Homo sapiens: one gene and its partners. The protein of the gene in region 1 interacts with the protein of each later gene in a pairwise test. Each region holds a gene or a part of one and is shown in the gene's direction. Other genes may lie near its edges. The genes, in order: FBLN1, PAX5 and CHIC2.

What was found.
Region 2: the proteins of FBLN1 (region 1) and PAX5 interact in binary tests that used the Homo sapiens proteins (3 or more experiments, as listed by UniProt).
Region 3: the proteins of FBLN1 (region 1) and CHIC2 interact in binary tests that used the Homo sapiens proteins (3 or more experiments, as listed by UniProt).

What each region holds. Positions count from the first base shown.
Region 1 is NC_000022.11:45,540,762-45,544,518, forward strand, and holds part of FBLN1 (fibulin-1 isoform D precursor), read left to right. Parts: intron 1-467; coding exon 468-611; intron 612-1,393; coding exon 1,394-1,522; intron 1,523-2,639; coding exon 2,640-2,765; intron 2,766-3,757. UniProt on the Homo sapiens protein: Incorporated into fibronectin-containing matrix fibers. May play a role in cell adhesion and migration along protein fibers within the extracellular matrix (ECM).
Region 2 is NC_000009.12:36,832,625-36,835,281, reverse strand, and holds the end of PAX5 (paired box protein Pax-5), read left to right. Parts: 3' UTR 1-2,013; downstream 2,014-2,657. UniProt on the Homo sapiens protein: Transcription factor that plays an essential role in commitment of lymphoid progenitors to the B-lymphocyte lineage. Fulfills a dual role by repressing B-lineage inappropriate genes and simultaneously activating B-lineage-specific genes.
Region 3 is NC_000004.12:54,015,927-54,019,683, reverse strand, and holds part of CHIC2 (cysteine-rich hydrophobic domain-containing protein 2), read left to right. Parts: intron 1-3,757.

The sequences.
Region 1 (3,757 bases):
CCGTGCAGTGAGCTCAGGGAGCCATGGCACCTCCCGGGTGGGCCTGGCTCAGCATAGGCCCTGTGAAGCCCAGTCATCGGAGGGGCCTAGAGCCTTGCTGGGAGTCAGAGTTGCTGGCACCACGTGGACAGTCACCTGTCTCCTTAATACCGTGCCCAGTGTGTGGAGTAGATGAATGCAGGAGAAGCCAGGCAGGCAGGTCCCGATTTGGCGCAGCGAACGATGGAGGTGCTGGAGATTTAGGGACAGGAAGAAGGGCCAGAGAGGTGGTGTTTGAGGCGGTATGCAGTGATAAAATTTGGGAGCCAGCTGGGAGGCGGCTGTGTGGTCCAGAGTGAGGGGGTTGAGCCCCTCCATTTGTGGTTTTGCAAAGAGGTGGGAAGGGGAGTTTCTTTGGAGATCCAGTTTTTGGGTTCTGGGACACCCTCCAGGTTTAACCACATGGTCTCTGTCTTTTCCCGCTGTAGATATCAATGAGTGTTTGAGTATCAGTGCCCCGTGCCCTATCGGGCATACATGCATCAACACAGAGGGCTCCTACACGTGCCAGAAGAACGTGCCCAACTGTGGCCGTGGCTACCATCTCAACGAGGAGGGAACGCGCTGTGTTGGTTGGTATTAAGAAAACAAATCTGAAATCCACTTTCCTGTCTGCTTCCAGCATGCACCCTGCCTTCTCTGGAAGCAGAAAGTTGATCCCCAAAGCAAAGCCATTTCTATCAGCCCATCCATCCCACTGTCAGTTCCCAAGCATGGGGCTTCATTGTCTTGCCTGGACTGGTGCACCAGCCCGTCTACTGCCTCAGCCTTGTCTGGCTTGTCCTGAGCCCAAAGCTCTCGCACCCCACCCTGTTTACAGTTCCATCAGCTCCCCGTTGGTGACAAAGGATGGATGCCTCTGCTTACAGTCCAGTCCCCCAGAGCTGGCCCAACTCCACAAACCTTGTAATTCAGGCAATGTGGGTCTGCCACTCCCCACACAAGCACTGTCCTTTCCTCTCTGTGTGGGTGTTTGCTCTCACGTCATTCCCTCTGCCCACCTGCTCCTACGTTCCTTTGGATCCAGGGCACCCAGCCTGCCTAGATCCCGCCAGGGAAGGAGCCTTCCTCGCATAACCCCCAGGACACTTCTTCAGTGTCTCCCTGGGTTCCTGGGCACTTCCTACCTTAATGAGAGTCATTGCTGGCCTGCCAGCCAGGTAGGGCTGCCTCTGGGTCAGCTATCTTCCCAGTCCAGGGCCCGGCACTCAGTAGGTGCTCTGTGAAGTCGTGTTGAAATGGAATGCCTGTTTCCATGTCCATGTGTTCCTTTCTTGCTTTCCTTTCTGATCATCTTGGGGGGAAAAAACCCAAACTAAAGGTTTTCATCATGGCTTTCTTTCTCCTTTGCAAGATGTGGACGAGTGCGCGCCACCTGCTGAGCCCTGTGGGAAGGGACATCGCTGCGTGAACTCTCCCGGCAGTTTCCGCTGCGAATGCAAGACGGGTTACTATTTTGACGGCATCAGCAGGATGTGTGTCGGTGCGTGGGGGGCCCCGCAGGCCTCGGGGGAACCCAGCCACGTGGCACCAGGGACACATTTCTGTGGCACCTCGAGTGATGTGGTCTGATCCTCATCTCAGATAATCCCAAGTGCAGGCAGACCCTGAGAGAAGATCCTGAGTCAGGAGACCCCATTCTAGCCCCAGCTCTGCTACTGCCCAGCCAGGCGGCCACTGGCACCACCCCCCTGTGTGTGAGCCTGCTCCCCATCTGTGGAAAGGGGTTCTGCTTGACCCAGGACCTCCAAGTGCTGATGAGCCAGGTCTACACATGTGGGCAGCATCAGCGATTTCCTGGAGATTCACCGCTGAGCTGTAGATCCCCAGGAGCTAGAGATGTGTGCCTTTAGCCCAGGGCAGCGAGGGGAAAAGTTGACCAGGAGTGGGGTCAGGTCTTGTCCAGCCAGTGCCTGCTGTCACCAAACCTAGGTGCTCAGGGAAGCCTGGCAGCTGCCAACCACTCCCCCAAAGTGGGCACTTTGCTAGATCCTGGCAGACCCTCCTTGTGGGTCCTGGGGAGGAGGACTGGCAGGAGGGCACAAGTTCAGATGTGCTGCCGCAGAAGGAGCACGAGGCTCGCCCACCAGGCAGGCACAGCGCGGCAGTCCCGGCTCTCCCACTGACTTCCCGCATGCTCGGGACAAGTCACTTTGCATTCCTTGTCTGAGAAATGAGGCTGGAGGCCAGGCGCGATGGCTCATGCCTGTAATCCCAGCACTTTGGGAGGCTAAGGCAGGTGAATCACTTGAGGTCAGGAGTTTGAGACCAGCCTGGCCAACATGACGAAACCTCATCTCTACAAAAAATACAAAAATTAGCCGGGCGTGGTGGCACATGCCTGTAATCCCTGTTACTTGGGAGGCTGAGGCAGGAGAATCACTTGAACTGGGAGGCGGAGGTTGCAGTGAGCTGAGATCATGCCACTGCAATCCAGCCTAGGAGACAGAGCGAGACTCCATCTCAAAGATGAAGGAAAAAAAAGAAATGAGGCTGGAGGAGGTGGAGGACAAAGGACATGAGCTGGCCTTACTAGGAGGGTGGAGTGTGGTGCCACTGTGTTGGACATTGCCCTGAGTCAGCCCACCCCTCACTTTCAGATGTCAACGAGTGCCAGCGCTACCCCGGGCGCCTGTGTGGCCACAAGTGCGAGAACACGCTGGGCTCCTACCTCTGCAGCTGTTCCGTGGGCTTCCGGCTCTCTGTGGATGGCAGGTCATGTGAAGGTGAGGCTGGGGCCCCGTCCACTCACCTCCCCCAGGTCACCTTCCTCCTGGGGAAGCCACCCTTCTGCAGACCGGTTTGCAGCAGATCCGCGATGGTTTCCCTGTTAAATGACATGTTAGCAGGGGAAGTGCCTGTAAAATATTGTTCATCAGAGAGGACTGCCCGCCTGCCCACCCGATTTCTCCTGATGACATCCACCCTCCGAGGCCGTGTCGGGGTTCATAGGCTGCGGCAGAGGCCATGCGGGATGTGGCTAGGATTATGGGGCTTGGAGCATGACACCCACGAGTCACAGGGCCTTGGTTATGCCCGACCTCTCCCTGCCTCCGTGTCCTCCCCGGGGAGAGGGGTTGATGTGTGAAACAGCAGCGAAAACTGGACACTTGTTTTGCACAAAGACAGTGTGTGGGTTTTAATCAGATGCTGCCTAGGGGAGACAGGCCTCTGTGTCCATTGATCTCAAGTCACCCAAACAAAAGGAGGGAGGCTTTGTAAATGACGAGCTGTGAGAGGAAGTACTGAGGCCTTTAGGGCGTGGGTCACTGTGCACCTGCCTCTAACTTCTTTTTTTTTTTTTGAGACGGAGTCTCGCTCTGTCACCCAGGCTGGAGTGCAATGCTACGATCTCGGCTCACTGCAACCTCCGCCTCCCGGGTTCAAGCGATTCCCCTGCCTCAGCCTCCCGAATAGCTGGGATTACAGGTGCACACCACCATGCCCAGCTAATTTTTGTATTTTTAGTAGAGACAGGGTTTCCCCATGTTGGCCAGGCTGGTCTTGAACTCCTGACCTCAGATGATCCGCCCACCTCGGCCTCCCAAAGTGCTGGCATTACAGGCGTGAGCCACCGCGCCCGGCCTGCCTCTAACTTCGTGTTGGAGTTAGGCTTTCCCCACCCGCAGAGACAGGGAGAAGCACCCTGGCCTTCCGGATGACGACATTCCCCAGGCATGTCCCCAGCCCTTGAGAAAGACACTCCTTGGTTGCACAT
Region 2 (2,657 bases), on another chromosome or scaffold:
CCAGGATTGAAGGGAACCTCAGAATCATGTCACTGCCATTCTAGAGTTTCAATCCAAGGGGTCCCCTTTAGCTCATCTCCAAGATGGGTAAACGTAGCCACCATTCAGAAAGCCCAGAAATTCTTGTTCCCACATCTTAGACCCCTGAGCAACACAAGGAGAAAATGCAGCTGCTTACCTATTAATATCTACTGAGGGACAATCAGCAAAGCCTCAAAGGAGTCGTCTCAGGTAGGGTACTTGGCCTGTGGCAGGAGAGACAGAGGCACAAACCCACCCACCCATCAGCTTCCGGTGGCTGATCGGGGCCCAGGGAGGGAAGCAGGTGAAACAGCAGGGTGGGGGTGACTTGGCAGTCGTGCATCTCCTCCCCGACTCTGAGGCCTGGCAGGAGGAGGCCACACCAGCCTCACCTGCCCTGACCCCCGCCCCCCACCCTGTGACCCTGTGGCTATGGCCGCTGGTCGCCCTTGTCCCCAAAATCACCATGCCTGTGGCCACGTCCCTCATCTTCTCCAAAAGCATCATTAAGAACAAGTGATTTTGGATGATGGATTTTTGATTTACAAACGGCGCATTTCCCTTGGAGTGGAACAGAAAGGAAACCATTTAATGGCGCCCTTCTTTTCAAGCATGAATACATTTTAATGAAACTATTTTATTGTATTTGAGGAAATGGAGAGTTGAACATTCCAACCAATCAATAGCCAATTAATTGCTATAAAGCTAAAAAGAAAATAAATAAATCCTGAGTCTATTTTAAACACTGCAAAAAGTTCAGAGCCTCAGAATCTGGCCTTCCCCTCCATAAGGTGCACGAGCATGTAAACACACACACACACACACACACACACACACACACACTCACTCACTCCCCTACACCTCAGACATACTTGAAACTCAGAAACAGCACTGAGTCTCCCCATGCCAATTCTTGCCTGCTGTCTTCGACTTGGGTCAGAGAAGGTGAGCAGACCCGGCAGCAGCCTGTCCCGGGGCTCAGGAAGAGGCAGGCCCATCCCCTGGCCCCAAGCACCCAGCACAACAGAGGGTGGCGGGCAGTGAGGGCCTGGCGTTGCCTGGGCCCCACTTCTCAGCCCCAGCTGCTGGGCCTCCAAGGTTGGGCTGAGGATGGAGTTTTGGCTCTGGGTTTGCCCTGACTCCTGCTGGAAGACGCTGCCCTGGTTTTTCACCCTCTAGTGGCCTTGGACATTGAGTATTTGTAGAAATGCAGATTACATTGCAAATGGAAACCTTTGCCAGGAAGACACATGCATTTTGCTTTTAATTCTTTGAGACATTTGATTTTGTCTTAGGGACTGACCTTTCAGCATCAAAGAAATACATATCTACTGTATCCGCCAAAGTTTGTGATGCCTGCATAGACGCTTACTTGTAAAAAAAAAAAAATACAAAAAAATACAAAAAAACCAACAACAAAAACCACAATTGAATTGCCTTTGAAAGTGGGAGATGATCTGTCTCCAACGGATTGAAAAAAAAAAATGCTTCTTAAAAAATGTGTATGTTTTGTATTCTTTTTTTCTAGTAGAAAATAACTGACTTGAAATATTGGTGGTTTTTTTCTTAGTGACGTGTGTTGCTTTTGTGTGTAATAATATTTGAATGTAATTACAGCAGTGCCAATTTGCCAAAGATGTTGGACATATTTTTCTTTTTTGGGGAGGAGGGCAGGGCTAGGGGTGGGACTTGGGAGAAAACAGGGGTGGGGTTTTGGTTTAATTTTTTTTTTACTTTTTTTTCCTTGTCAAACCTGAAATTTGTGGCTTCCTTTTAAGTTAAATGGTTGACTGCAACACCTTTATTTTAGATTAGTTGGAGAAACATGCAATAAGATTGGCGTAGTTTCAATATCTGTGTGTCTTTTCATGAGTGGCTGTTACTTGTGAAGAATTGATTTTATGTAACCTTTATGTGAGATAATTATTTGTAAATATTTGCCATAATTTTATTGGTTCCTAAAATAAAAGTAATTTTTTAAGTTCAGAAAAAGAATTTGATCTTGTTTGTTTTTACTAGTTTGAGGATGACCTTTGACAACTTTGACTGTACCGTAGTCATGCATGGATTTGATTGTTTTGTCAAAACAAACCCATGTTGCAGAATTGGGCTGTGCCCTGGGCAGGGGACAGCAGGCACAGAATCCACCCTTGAGATGTCCCCAGGCTTGGCAGGTTGAGTCATGGGTGAGCCACCACTCTGGATTTGACTCCTAGCTGTGATTTAATGTCTACTTCTTCAGTTCCCAAATGGTAATTCCCACCTAATTCATTCATTCAGCACACACTGATTGAGCATCTATTCTGTCCCCAGCACTGGGGACACAGAAGTGAACAGGGCCAACCAGGACTCTGCTATCAGTGGCACAATCATAGCTCACTGCAACCTTGAATTCCTGGGTTCAAGCCACCCTCTTGCCTCAGCCTCTCAAGTAGCTAGGACTACAGGCGTTCACCACCAAGCCCAGCTAGTTTTTAAAATAATTTTTCCCTACTTACAAACTAACATATTATCAGCTAATTTTTTAAAACTTTTTGTAGAAACAGGCTCTCACTATGTTGCCCAGGCTGATTTCAAACTCCTGGCCTTAAGCCTTCCTCCTGCGTCAGCACCCCCAAAGTGCTGGAATTACAGGC
Region 3 (3,757 bases), on another chromosome or scaffold:
TTTTCTGAAATGGTACTCAGAGTTAGTAGATAACCCCCTTTAAATTGTGCATGTTTGTGTACATGTTTCTTTTTTTCTGCAGAGAGAGAATCCCTATCTTTCATAATTCATAACCAGTATAACCTAAACAAGTTAATATTCTCTCACTAGCCTAGATCGTAAACTTGATGAAATTCTGTTTAAGATTAGCACCTATTAAGACACTGCTCAGTACTAGAGGATATTTTTGATTCACAAAATTTTAGCAATTTTTTTTAGCGTATTTCTATCTAAAAATATTACTTTTAACAAATAGCACATGATACTTCAGTGGGTGTTTTAATATATCTAGATTATTTAAAAGTTAATGTTCATATTAAAATTTTAAAAGGTGCTTTAATGTACAGGAAAGGAATTTGTTTAAAAATCCTTTTGAGAAATCATATTCTAGTTTTTTTTTGTTTTTTGGTGAATCTAGGCTTTTCACGTAGCATAATACTGTGATATAATTATTTAATTTTCTGCACATCACTGGAATATAAAATTTCATATTAATCCAGAATGAGCAGAAGTGAATAATATAATTTCCTCTTAAGTTCTCTTATGTTAAAATAATTCATTTTAAATTATATATGGTTTCTCCCTAATAACTTACAGCTAAAGACATTGTTTTACTTAACAAATTCAATTTACACAGATGTCTAAAGATGAATAGCATTCTTATTTGAAAAATATAAGTTAAAAACAAGATTATGAATATATTCAAAACATTTTAGTTAAAGGTTAATTAATGCATTATAGATTTAAGAGTTTAAAATTTAAGTAGGGAATTGAACATTTGAAATTTTGCTTTCCCATTTTGTGATGGTATGAATAAATCCAATTCAAATACATTTTAATTATAGGTTTAAATAGGTGAACTTTTATAAATAGTTATTAGTGAGTATTCTGTACATTTTATTAGCATATCATAGCATATTTTTGTTCTAAAGACTGATAATACTATTTTATTGGGAAATATTAAGATAAACTTTGTTACAGTTTCTACACTTAACATTTTTTTTCTTTAGCTCTCAATACTCTAAAATTTATGAGATTTCCATTGGTTTTATTAGTAATGTCTAGAAAACCACTTCTTTGTAAAACCATGTTTTCAAACAATTGATTGTGATTAAATGAGTCATTGGGAATTAGGAAACTCTTAAGTAACCAGTGGTGGCAAAGTAGGAGATTAATACCTTAAAGATTTTCTAAATGGCTCTTTGCTGTCCTGGAAGACTAATTTATATCTAATGGCATTTAATTTGTTTATAGGGAATAATATTAATAATTTATTCCTAAGAAAGTTACAGTATTTAGGAAAAATTACAAAAATACATAATAATTCAAATTTGAATTTTCAGGAAATCTTAGTTTTCTATTGCAGTAATTGAGTTTGTCTAGGTGTATGTGTGCTTTGCTGTTATAAGCTTACTTTAGATGCTTCTTTGGAAGGTATGTCTTATTTGGGTATGTCTTATCTAATATTGCTGATTAATCATTACCATATTAGCCATTTTATGAATTACTGAGGCCCTTTTAGTTCTCTTTCCGTTTTCATGTTTTTCCTATTTTCACAATTCTACCAAAAATCTAAAAGGGACCAAAGGCAATATAAATAGAAGCCAAAATTTCTATTCTTATGTTACTACTACTTGTTGCTCAACTTAAGTCTGTTTAATACCTATTCAGTAATTGAAATGATATTTTTTAAATCTCCTGTTAATTTTTACTTTCACAAAGCTGAATGGCTGTATTAAAACTAGTTCACCAATGAGAAAAATATAACCACTAAGGTGTGGAAATGAAGAAATGTGTGTTTTGTTTTTGTTTTTGTTTTTGTTTTTTTAAAGAAAAAGGGTTATTTAAAGTGAGCTGAGGGAGATGGGTGGGATCCAGATGCTTGGAGCTGTCTACTTCCAGACCAGGTTAGTAACATGACGCCATTCACACAAAAAAGTTGTTTTTCCTGCATATTGTGAGTTGGTGGTCTTGGTCCTTTTAATTAAAGATAAGAATACTTGATAAAATTACATTTCTTGTTGATCATCTTTTGCAGAAAGACGGAGAATTACATTGGTAAAGAACCGCTAACCTGTCCCCTCACCCCCAGGGTGTGAGCAGTGAAAAGGATTAAGGCCCACTGTAGGGAAGCTTACACTAAAGCCTGCACTGCCCCTTCCCCTGTTCTTTCAGCTAAATAGATTTTTAGTTCCCATGACTATCAATCTGGTGCTTTTCACAAGCACTAAATTCTCTTAAAGAAAATTAAAGATGACTTATTTTTTTAGAAACTGGCCTGGAATACTGAAAGATGGTGTTTTTTGGTACTTTGTTTCATGTTGACAGATCCCATACATATTTTTTTCTGATGCATGTTAATTTGCTTCAGCTTGTTTTGAATTTGGAGTTGAAATAAACATTTAAAAACCAAGGACAGGTTGTTATATGATTAGATTTGCTTGTCCACAGTTAGCAAGTGTAGAGTTCGACACTGTTGAATCTTACATTTCATTAGAAATAGCTACCTGACAGCCTTGTGGACATAAACTCTTTAACTTTTATCTAGATGACTACAATTATAAAGTGCTTTCTTTTAAAAGCTTTTAAGTAGCTTTTATAAATGCTGAAGTGTCATTTTTTTTAGTATCTGCCAAATTGGTATTGTATTTAATCTTGAAAATATATTTTGATTTTCTTAACTAACAATAATTGCATAGTATTAAACATTCTCAGTAGCTCAACCTTTTTTTTTTCTATTTAATTTGAGCTTTTGTTGTTACTAACAAATAATTTGTGGCACAGTTTCTTTCCTTTTTTTTTTAAATGACTGCTAGAATCTATATACTTGTCACCTTAGTGTGCTAGAAATGTTCCACTCAAATCAAGGGTTCCTTTCTGGTTTTGTATGTTCTCACCTGCTCCTCACTGTAAATCATTGAGATGTCAAGTGCAATGATTAATTAAGCTGCACGTGCAAGTGCTTTTTTTTTCACCTGTCAAGCAGGAAAGAAGTCTTATAGCAAAATTAGATGGTGCTAATTCACAGCTTTTACTTCAGACTGTGAAGTGTGTAGAAATATTTTATATTTATATGCTTATTCAGAATGTGGCATATCAGGGCTTGTTTGTTTTATAATTCTTAAATATTGTAAGATACAATTATTATACCAAGCCCTATCATTAAACTCCTAATTATAAACAGAGAAGAAATTCAGAATTCCTACTTAAATATTTTGGAATTCAAGATTTATACTTTGTAATTATCTTTTATTCAAATACTAGTAGTTGATTTAAGTTAAAGTAAATATTTTTAAGTTTTAAAATTGTGTGTATGTATGTGTCTATATATCATAATGAGATCTATTCTTATTATAGCATGGGTTTAAACTTCTGATGAAATGATGGTGGTAACTACATTTTTTTCTTTAAGTAATAAGTATTTGCAGAATGTAGTATTAAGCTTTTGGGTACTATTTTATACATTAATATAAAACAGTGGGCTTGGAAAACTTGTTCTGCTCTAGTTCTTTCATCATCCACCCACCCCCAAAATCATCAGTAAAAGTAAAACCTCAAATTGTATAGTAATCTTAATCTATTATTAAAAGGCCCTAGAAAGAAAGATTACAAGGTAGATTCAGGTTTTGAATCGGTTTTGCCATTGGTTTAGCAGCGGGTGGGCAGGCAGATGCCTGCTCAGAGTAGAACCTATTGCCATTTTTCACCATTGATAGAG